Linked DNA regions of Homo sapiens: region 1 is linked to region 2. The links come from fine-mapping of genetic effects on gene expression. A gene starts in region 2. The other region holds a variant in brackets. All regions are shown on one strand. Distances are between the middles of the regions. Region 1 overlaps LINC02320 (long intergenic non-protein coding RNA 2320). Region 2 holds the start of LINC00239 (long intergenic non-protein coding RNA 239).

Region 1 (5,378 bases), 43 kb before region 2:
CATATGCCCAAGGTGGTCGGGGCACAGCTTGGTTTTACATATTTTAGGGAGACATGAGACATAAATCAATATATGTAGGATGTACATTGGTTCCATTCAGAAAGTCAGGACAACTCGAAGCAGGGAGGGGGCTTCCAGGTCACAGTTAGATGAGAGACAAACAGTTGCATTCTTTTTTTTTTTTTTTTTTTTAATTGAGACAGAGTCTCACTCTGTCGCCCAGGCTGGGGTGCAGTGGCGCAATCGCGGCTCACTGCAAGCTCCGCCCGCCGGGTTCACGCCACTCTCCTGCCTCAGCCTCTCCGAGTAGCTGGGACTACAGGCGCCCGCCACCACGCCCGGCTAATTTTTTGTATTTTTAGTAGAGACAGGGTTTCACCATGGTCTCTATCTCCTGACCTTGTGATCCGCCCGCCTCCGCCTCCCAAAGTGCTGGAATTACAAGCCTGAGCCACCGCGCCCAGCCGACGGTTGCATTCTTTTGAGTTTCTGATGAGCCTCTCCAAAGGAGGCAATCAGATATGCATTTATCTCAGTGAGCAGAGGGATGACTTCGAATAGAATGGGAGGCAGGTTTACCCTAAGCAGTTCCCAGCTTGACTTTTCCCTTTAGCTTAGTGATTTGGGGGCCCAAGATTTATTTTCCTTTTACAGAGTGAAGATATAATCTACAGAATGGGAGAATATATTTGCAAACCATACGTGTGGTAAGGGATTAAGATCCAAAATATATAAGAAACTCAACTCAATAGTAAGAAAACAACCTGATATGAAAATGGACAAAGGGCCTCAATAGACATTTCACAAAAGAAGACATACAAATGGCCAACAGGTGTATGAAAAAATGCTCAACATCACTAAACATCAGGAAAATGCAAATTAAAACCACAGTGAGATATCCCCTCACACCTGTTAGAATGGCTCTTATCGAAAATACAAAAGATAAATGTTGGCAAGGATGTGGAGAAAAGAGAAATCTTGTACACTGTTGTACAAGGTACAATATACAAGAATGTACATTTGGTACAACCATTATGGAAAACAGCATGGAAGTTCCTCAAAAAATTAAAAATAGAATTTCCATATGATCCAGCAATCCCAACATTGAGTATAAATCCAAAGGATATGAAATCAGTATGTCAAAGAGATATCTGCACTCCCATGTTCTACAGTATTACAAGAATCAAGTTAGGAATCAACCTAAGTGTCCATTGATAGATGAACAAATAAAATACAGTATGTGTACACAATGAAATATTATTCAGCTTTAAAAAGAATAAAATCCTGTCATTTGCAACAATGTGGATAAACTGAGAGGACATCACATTAAGTAAAATAAGCCAGGCACAGAAAGAAAAATACGTAATCTCACTTGTATATAGAGTGTAAAAAAGTCAAACTTATAGAAGCAGAGAGTAAAATAGCGGTTCCCAGATGCTGGAGGTTGGGGGATTGGGAAGATATTGGTCGCAGGACACAAAATTTCAGTGAAATAAGAGGAATAAGTTCAAGAGATCTATTGTACATCATGGTGACTACAGTTGATAACAATGTGTTATATACTTGCAAATCCCTAAGACAGTTGATTTTAAGTGTTCTCACCACACACAAAAAAAATGATAAGTATGTGGCATGATGCATATGTTCAATAATTTGATTTAGCCATTCCATAGTGTGTCACAACATCAGGTTGTACACCACAAATATATACAATTTCTACTTGTCAATTAAAAAATAAATAAAATATATTGACACAGGAAATATGTACTTAAGTTCCTTAAAAGTCTTTTTTTTTTCTTTTTTTGGAGATGGAGTCTCACTGTGTCACCCAGGCTGGAGTGCAGTGGCGCAATCTCGGCTCACTGCAACCTCTGCTTCCCATGTTCAAGCAATTCTCCTGCCTCAGCCTGCCAAGTAGCTGGGACTACAGGCACATGTCGCCACACCCGGCTAATTTTTTTGTATTTT[A/T]AGTAGAAACGGCGTTTCACTGTGTTGCCCAGGCTGGTCTCGAACTCCTGAGCTTAGGCAATCCACCCGCCTCAGCCTCCCAAAGTGCTAGGATTACAGGCATGAGCCACCGCATCCAACCTAAAAGTTTTAATTTATGCTACATTATTCAAAATAATAATATTTTCAAAACAAAAGAAAAAAATGTGTGCAAAATGTTTAAAGGAATAAAGGCCACTGTTACAACTAACAGAGATCACTGGGAAAATATCAATAAAAGGACCCATGAAAAGACTACAAGCAACAATTCCTCAGGTCCAGTGAGCACCATAAGCATCTGATCTTAAAGACCGAATCCTTCCAGCCAGTAGCTCTTTAGAGAAGTGGCTGATTCGAGGTGCAGGACAGGGGGTGCCCAACATAGGTCAGGGCATCTGTGCTAAAATCAAGGAAGAAGCCAAAGACTGGTTCTTGCCAAAAAGACATGGAAGCTGGCCGGGCATGGTGGCTCATGCCTGTAATCCCAGCACTTTGGGAGGCCGAGGCGGGTGGATCACCTGAGGTCAGGAGTTCAAGACCAGCCTGGTCAACATGGTGAAACCTCATCTCTACTAAAAATACAAAAATTAGCCGGGTGTGGTAGCATGCACCTGTAATCCCAGCTACTAGAGGGGCTAAGAGGCAGGAGAATCGCTGGAACCCAGGAGGTGGAGGTTGCAGTGAGCCAAGATCGCACCATTGCACTCCAGCCTGGTTAAAAGAGTGAGACTCTGTCTCAAAAAAAAAGACACAGAAGCCAGCTTGACACCACATTTGATGACAATTTGCATAAAGCAAAGTTCATCCGTAGTGGCATTCATAAAAAGAGAAAGAAAAAAACGGTGAGGAGCTTTTTGTGAAAGAATGCCAGTTAATTCACCTAGAAGTCACGGATTTAGAAAATCACAATTTTGCAACCACCAGTATAACAACTGATTCAGGTGAAGGTCATTAGTGAATAACAGCACCAGGTAAAATATGGTTGGATGGAGCAGAATCATCACTGCCCCACCTACTTGCCTCAGACTCTCCACTCACTATGCCCCAGGTGACTTCCCATTGCCATTTCAGCATCTCCACCCTGAGGGCATTTTGCCCACACATAGGGGAAGCGGAAGTGCCGGGCTATTAACAACCCTCTGAAACAGCTTGCGCCAATGACTGATGAAAGTTGGTGCATAAATATTTCGGCTCCCTTGGCCCTCCTCCAAGTGAGATAACTCTAAGGTGTGTGTGTTACACAACTTCCCAGCATCTCCCAACAGTGTTAAGCTCTGGTTTCCCTGTGGTGGCTGGCTTAATGACACAACTTTGATTGGCTGTATCCCCTTCCAGGTATCACTTCTTCACCCAAATAAACATCCTGCTCTCAAATTTTCATCTCAGGATCAACTTTGGGAAGGATGCAATCTACAACCTTGGTGTCAGTGACAGAGCAGAAGCACTGCCATCTTGGACAAACGCCACCATTTTAAATTCCAGCTCCCTTTCTAACCTCATGCATTTCAAGGAAATCACTTCTTTTCTAACAACAAGCAGCCAGAAAGAGCAGACGGTAAAACACAGATAAGACAGCTCAGGCAGGGAGAGAGAGGGGAAAGTCTCTTGGGTAACCACCAAGCTTCACACCCATACAATGGGACCCAGCAAAACAGTGGGTCCAAATAAGCACATTCCTTTCTTTTCAGGTGCACTAAGATAGGGAAGCTAAAAGTAAACTCGGGGGTATGCCTGCAGGTGCAGGAAGATGTATGGGAACAGACACAAAACTCTCCCTCCCAGATAAGCAAGACAAAGAGACACAGGACATTTCAAGCCTGTGATAAGCTCTCCCACCCTGAACCCTTAAATACTCTTAGTCTGTAAGAGAGACTGCTCCCAACCTAACTCGGCCAGAAGGCCCTCTCAGGTTTACTCTCTGAAATAAACCTGTCTTTGACTACTCAGCCACTTTTCATGTTTCTTTCTTCTTCAATTCTTACAGCCAGGAGTAGGAGGCAGATCCTCTAGTGGGACCCTGGAATGAGACCACTAGCCACAGGGCCGCTGGTGTTGAGAGGTGACAACGTGCTAGCAGCCGTCGCTTGCTCTAGGTGCCTCCTGGGCCTCGGCATCCACTCTGGCCATGCTCCAGGAGCTCTTCAGCCCGCCACTGCACTGTGGGGGCCCCTCTCTGGGCTGGCCGAGGCCGGAGCCGGCTCCCTCTGCTTGCCAGGAGGTGTGGAGGGAGAGGCACAGGCGGGAACCAGGGCTGCGCGCCGAGCTCGCGGGCCAGCACGAGTTCCAGGTGGGCGGGGCTCAGCAGGCCCCGCACTGGGAGTGGCCAGCCCACACCACCTGCCTGGGCAGTGAGGGGCTTAGCACCTGGGCCAGCAGCTGCGGAGGGTGCACCAGGTCCCCCAGCACTGCCAGCCTGCCCATGCTGTGCTCCAATTCACACCGGGCCTCAGCCGCCTCCCCACGGGGCAGGGCTCAGGACCTGCAGCCGGCCATGCCCAAGCCCCACCCCTCACCCCTGTGGGCTCCCCAGCGGCCCGAGCCACCTCAACGGTGCCACCTCCTGCTCCGGGGTGCCCGCCTGGTCCCATCGACTGCCCAAGGGATAAGGAGTGTGGGCCACAGTGCGGGACTGGCGGGCATCTCCGCCCACAGCTCTGGCGCAGGATCCACTAGGTGAAGCCAGCTGGGCTCCTGAGTGGGGTGGGGACTTGGAGAACTTTTATGTCTGGATGGAGGATTGTAAATGCACCAATCAGCACTCTGTGTCTAGCTCAGGGTTTGTGGATACGCCAATCAGCACTCTGTATCTAGCTAATCTGGTGGGGACTTGGAGAACTTTTATGTCTAGCTGGAGGATTGTAAATGCACCAATCAGCACCCTGTGTCTAGCTCAAGGTTTATAAACACACCAATCAGTGCTCTGTGTCTAGTTAATCTAGTGTGGACTTGGAGAACTTTTAGGTCTAGCTAGAGGATTGTAAATACACCAATCAGCACTCTGTCTAGCTCAGGGATTGTAAATGCACTGATTAGCAACCTGTCAAAACGGACCAATCAGCGCTCTATAAAGAGGACCAGTCAGTGCTCTATAAAACGGACCAATCAGCTCTCTGTAAAATGGACCAATCAGCAGGATGTGGGTGGGGTCAGATAAGGGAATAAAAGCAGGCTGCCCAAGACAGCAGCGCAACCTGTTCGGGTCCCATTCCACAGCGTGGAGGATTTGTTCTTTCACTCTTTGCAATACATCTTGCTGCTCGTTCTTCGGGTCCACAATGCCTTTAGGAGCTGTAACACTCACGTGAAGGTCTGCAGCTTCACTCCTGAGGCCAGCAAGACCACGAACCCACCAGGAGGAATGGACGACTCCAGACGCGCCACCTTAAGAGCTG
Region 2 (5,378 bases):
CCACCACCACCAATTGTTGATTTGTCCTCCCTATTGGAGCCAACCCATCATCTCCCATTATAATAATTCATTCATTAAAAAAATTAAAACTTGATCTCTGATATGGTTTGGCTGTGTCCCCAACCACATCTCATCTTGAATTGTGGTTACCATAATTCCCACTTGTCATGGGAGGGACCCGGTGGGAGGTAATTGAATCATGGGGGTGGTTACCCCCATGCTACTGTTCTCATGATAGTGAGTGAGTTCCCACGAGATCTGATGGTTCAATAAGGGGCTTTCCCCCTTTTTGCTCGGTACTTCTCCTTGCTGCTGCCATATGAAGATATGAAGAAGGACATATTTGCTTCCCCTTCTGCCATGACTGTAAGTTTCCTGAGGCCTCCCCAGCCATGCTGAACTGTCAGTCAATTAAACCTCTTTCCTTTGTAAATTACCCAGTCTCGGGTATGTCTTTATTGGCAACGTGAGAACGGACTAATAAAATCTCTCTCTCCCTTTCTGCTCTCCTTTATAGCAAGACTCTTTGGAAGTATCCATCTGGGCCAGAGTGCAGTGGCATACTCACAGCTCACTGCAGCCTCGATCTCCTGAGCCCAAGCAATTCTCGCACCTCAGCCTCTTAGTAGCTGGGACTACAGGTGTGCACCACCACTCCCCGCTAATTTGTAAAAATTTTTTGTAGGCCGGGCGCAATGTCTCATCCCTGTAATTGCAGCACTTTGGGAGGCCGAGGTGGGCGGATCACCTGAGGTCAGGAGTTGGAGACCAGCCTGGCCAACATGGTGAAACCTTGTCTCTAGTAAAATACAAAAAATTAGCCAGGTGTGTTGGCGGGCACCTGTAATCCCAGCTACTCAGGAGGCTGAATGAAGAGAATTGCTTGAACCTGGGAGGTGGAGGTTGCAGTGAGCTGAGGTTGCACCACTGCACTCCACCCTGGGCTACAGAGCGAGACTCTGTCAAAAAAAAAAAAAATTAAAAAAAAAATTTGTAGAGACAGAGTCTTGCTATGTTTCCCAGGTTGCTCTGGAACTCTTGGCCTCAAGCAATCCCTACCTCAACTTCCCAAAGTGCTGAGCTTATAGGTGTGAGCCCCTGCACCCAGCTGGAAGTATCTATTCTTATTATCTTCAATTTTTCTCCTCCCATTTTCTCTTGAACCTTTTCAATCAGTATTTGCCTCCTACCACCACATTGAAGCCCTCCAGTGGCTTCCCTATTTCATTTGGGATAAAATCCAAAGTCTTGGCCAGGTGCGGTGGCTCATGCCTGTAATCCCAACACTTTGGGAGGCCAAGGTGGGCAGATCACTTAAGCTCAGGAGTTCAAGACCAGCCTGGGCAACATGGTGAAACCCCATCTCTACAAAAAGTACAAAAATTAGCCATGTGTAGGGGCGCATGGCTGTAATCCCAACTACTTGAGGTGCTGAGGCAGGAGGATTGCGTGAACTTGGGAGGTCGAGGCTGTAGTGAGCCAAGATCATGCCACTGCACTCCAGCATGGGTGACAGAGCGAGACCTTGTCTCAAAAAAGAAAAATAAAGCCAGAGTCTTCGCAGTGCCCACAAGACCCTACGTGACCTGATCTCCCATGACTCATTGCTCCTCGACAGCCACCACTCCGTTCCATGGAGTAGCCCAGGCCAACTGCTCTGCAGCCAAACTCAGGGAAACTTGGAGAACATGTGTGGACCAGAGGACCCCTTCCTCCTGGCTACCAAAAGAACCCCCAAATCCTGCAGCCCACCAGCTGTGTGCCCAGACACAATCTGGAGTAGAGGAGTAGACAGTGGCAGCCATCAGAAGCCCCACTGGCCAAACACTTCAGCCTCAGAATGCTGAGCTGCTCAAAGAACTGGTTAAATGTTTGTATTAGACCAAGGTTACTAGAATGGATGTTTCTCCCCATTGTATTACCCAGCAGAGAGTACCTTTCAAGAAAGATCAGATTAATTAAGTAGGAAAATGAAGACACTCTATTTTCTTTGCACATCTGATGTATTGTGAGTGATTTTGTGACCCTGCTACGTGCACGCATATGCACAGAAAAAAAATATCTTAGAATGTAGACCAAAATATTAACAGTGGTTATGGATGAGTGATGGATGAGTGAACTAACTATAGATTTGGAAGGATATTGTCTGTTTTAAAAGAAAATGAACACTTTCACTCCCAAACAAGACGGAATGTAGAGACTGGATTTCCTCTCCTGCCTGAAAAAGTCAAAATAAATTGGACCAAATATATAAAACAAGAGTTCTCAAGACACTGGATGATATGGTTTTGCTATGTCCCCACCCAAATCTCATCTTGAATTGTAGCTCCCATAATTCCCATGTGTTGTGGGAGGGACCTGGTGGGAGATATTTGAATCATGGGGGTGGTTTCCCCCATACTGTTCTCGTGGTAGTGAACAAGTCTCACGAGATCTGATGGTTTTATAAGGGGTTTCCCTCTCCACTTGGTTCCATTCTCTCTTGTCCACCACCATATAAGATGTGCCTTTCACCTTCTGCCATGATTGTAAGGCTTCCCCAGGCCCGTGGAACTGTGAGTCCATTAAACCTATTAAACCTGTTTTTCCTTATAATTTACCCAGTCTCGGGTATGTCTTTATCAGCAGCATGAGGACAGACTAATACACTGGATATCAGGTAACTAGGCACAATGATTTCTGAGAATGTGGAAAATAAAGTGAGCCTGCAATTAACCCAGCTTCCTTTCTTGAGAGGGTTTCCAAGCTACAGTATGGACAAGGGTACCCAGGTGGGGCCTGGCAGGCTCTTCGAGTTGGGAAGACAGAGCTGAGAGTCCAGGGAGACTCTGGTCACAGGTAGGGGCAGGGGGGTGATGCTGAGAGCCCCTGGGGCATGCCTGCCCTCTACAAAGCTCGTGGTTGAATGCAGGGAGGTGGTCTGGGGGTGGACTTGGGCAATGGGGAGGCTGCATGGGTTAGAGCCAAGCTCTCCCCTCTTCCAGTCTGTCTGGGCCTCTGCAGCTCCCGGTAACTTTGCACTGATTCCAGAGACAGTGATTGCTCAGGTACCCAGGTCTGGGTGTAATTAAAAAAAAAACAAAACAACAACAACAACAACAACAACAACAAAAAACCAAACCTGGCTCTTGGTGCTTTCAGAGATGGCTCAGAGCAGGAATTCTCTAGCTTTGGGGTGCATCCTCAGAGGTGGGGGGGGGCTTGCTGAAAAGACAGGTGTATGGTCCCACCTCAGGCCTGCTGAACAGAAGCTCTGGAGCAGGCTCAGGAGTTTCTTTTCTAACAGGCTCCCCGAGAGATCCTAGCAAATGTTTGCACAACACTCACTTGGAAGCTATGTGACCAAAACCATGATCACAGGGTTGTCCCTGAACACGGTGGGGAAATAACCTCTCCCTTAAATCTCCCCTGCGTGGTGACTTAGGGGAGGAGCCGGAAGAGAGCAGTGCTTCACAATAAAAGGAAGAATTGCTTGAACGGAGGCGTTTCAGGCATGAGTCACAGGCCGGGTGTGGAAGAGGAAAGTGTGAAGCAAGGTAGGCTTCCCAGCACCCCTCCATGCACAGCAGGGGCTGGCCAGCCTCAGCCAGGCCAGATGGAGCCCTGGAGGGTGGGGCTGGCTGCCCAGCTAGAGTGTCTCCTTTTACTTCCAGCAGGAAAAAAAGGCCTCCTGTCAATAGCAGAATCATCTACGTTTTCCCTGCCTTCCTCACTTAAATGCTTTCGAGGAGTGGGAGGAAGAAATTGGAGGCTGGAATGAATACCCTTTGCCCTCCTCTGAAAGCAGCCTGGGAGGGGTGACGGGGTGTAGGAGCAGAGACTTCAAGTGGCCCCCACCTGCCAAACCATTCTCAGGGACAGGTACCAGCTGGGATGTTGGCAGCAGCCGCTCCCCTGCAAGGAGAACCTCCCACTTCCTGTCCCGCACACCTGCCTCATTGGAAAGTGACGCACCCACTGTTTGGCCTCGGCAGCCTGATGTTTCTCATCACACAGGAAGACGGTCATGCTACAGGAAGACCTCGGACTTTGCATCCAGCAGATGTGAGTTCAAATTCCAGCTTTGTAATTTGCAAGCTCAGAGGTGGATTTGCTGGGAAGCTAAACAAGCTTACCTGCAGAGCCCCCAGCTTGCATGGGCCCCTCCCAAGACCTTAACCTCATTTTGTATTCATAATTTTGTAGTCTTTTCCCTTCAAAAGGCAGCCCAAATTTAAAAGCATTAAGCCCCACAAGACCTGAGTCCACCTAGGAGGTGGGAGATATCCCTTGCAGCATGAGAATAATAATTACCACCTCGTAGGGTTGTTCTAGAGATTGTCAGACCGAGACCACGCCACACACCCAGAAGGCACCCAAGTCACAGAGCCTGATATTGTTCCTGGAGCGCCATTGCATCATCCTTGACCACAAGATCTGCGTCATTGGATTTGTCTCAAAAACTTGGGACTCTGGAGATAAAACCTCATTGCAAGGCTACCTTTGCCACTGTATCTTAGCAGCTTTTGAAGCAAAGCATTTCAATATTTAGACACTGTGTTTCTAATGGGTACTGGGATCAAAATAATAAAAACTCAGTCTGCAAAGGGAGAAGAATAGAAACCAGCAGATTTATTATTTCACAGAATGTTCCTCTCCTCTCAGGTAAACATGCCTAATAATATCTGCTTAACTAATGAGCACCCGCATTGTCAGTGGGGCCTTGACTCTGACGACGTAATGCATTTCTGTGCCATTGCACCCCCCACCCATCTCGGAGAGCATCTGAAAATTAAGTGGGGCAGATGTAATTATGCATCTAATATGCAAGGTACATGTGCATGTAGAAGTGTGCATTGTGTAAACAACTGTATCAAATCAACTGCATGTATCTGCTTGGCTCACGTCCTACAAGCACAATTTTCATTTTATTCCAGTTACTTCTTTTTTTTTTTTTTTTTTACAGAGTCTCACTGTGTTGCCCGGGCTGGAGTGCAGCAGCGCCATATTGGCTCACTGCAACCTCCGCCTCTCAGGTTCAAGCAATTCTCATGCCTCAGCCTCCCAAGTAGCTGGAATTACAGGCATGCGCCACCACACCCAGCTAATTTTTGTACTTTTAGTAGAGGTGGGGTTTCACCATGCGTTGGCTGGTCTCAAACTCCTCACTTCAGGTGATCTGCCCACCTTGGCCTCCCAAAGTCCTGGGATTACAGGCATCAGCCACCATGCCCGGCCTTCCAGTTACTTCTTGCTGGCTAATAAATCACCCCAGAACCAAGTGGCTTAAGACAGCCATGAGTGTTTTGTAACAAGCATTGGATGACTATTTCCCCCAGCCCTGGGGACTAACTAGGCTCAGCTTATCTGGGTCTTTCATCCAGTTGCAGTCAGTGGCT

Evidence for each region. PIP is the estimated chance that this variant, and not a neighbour inherited with it, causes the effect.
Region 1: its variant is the best candidate, but not a certain one, in a credible set for the expression of LINC00239 in whole blood (INTERVAL, PIP 0.72).

What each region holds. Positions count from the first base shown.
Region 1 is chr14:101,684,869-101,690,246 of GRCh38, forward strand. The region is part of intron 1 of LINC02320 (long intergenic non-protein coding RNA 2320); the gene reads right to left. Among named protein-coding and RNA genes, the nearest start is that of LINC00239, 43 kb to the right of the region's middle. RefSeq lists a silencer at 4,467-4,630. The variant A/T (reference allele first, on the strand shown) is at 1,969.
Region 2 is chr14:101,727,933-101,733,310 of GRCh38, forward strand. LINC00239 (long intergenic non-protein coding RNA 239) reads left to right here and starts at 2,505. Exons shown (of 4, transcript NR_026774.1): 1 at 2,505-2,555; 2 at 3,425-3,536; 3 at 3,856-4,044; 4 at 4,304-4,593. It overlaps LINC02320 (long intergenic non-protein coding RNA 2320), which reads right to left and starts at 3,374. Exons shown (of 6, transcript NR_184269.1): 1 at 3,122-3,374. RefSeq lists enhancers at 2,940-4,139, 3,182-3,241, 3,972-4,071.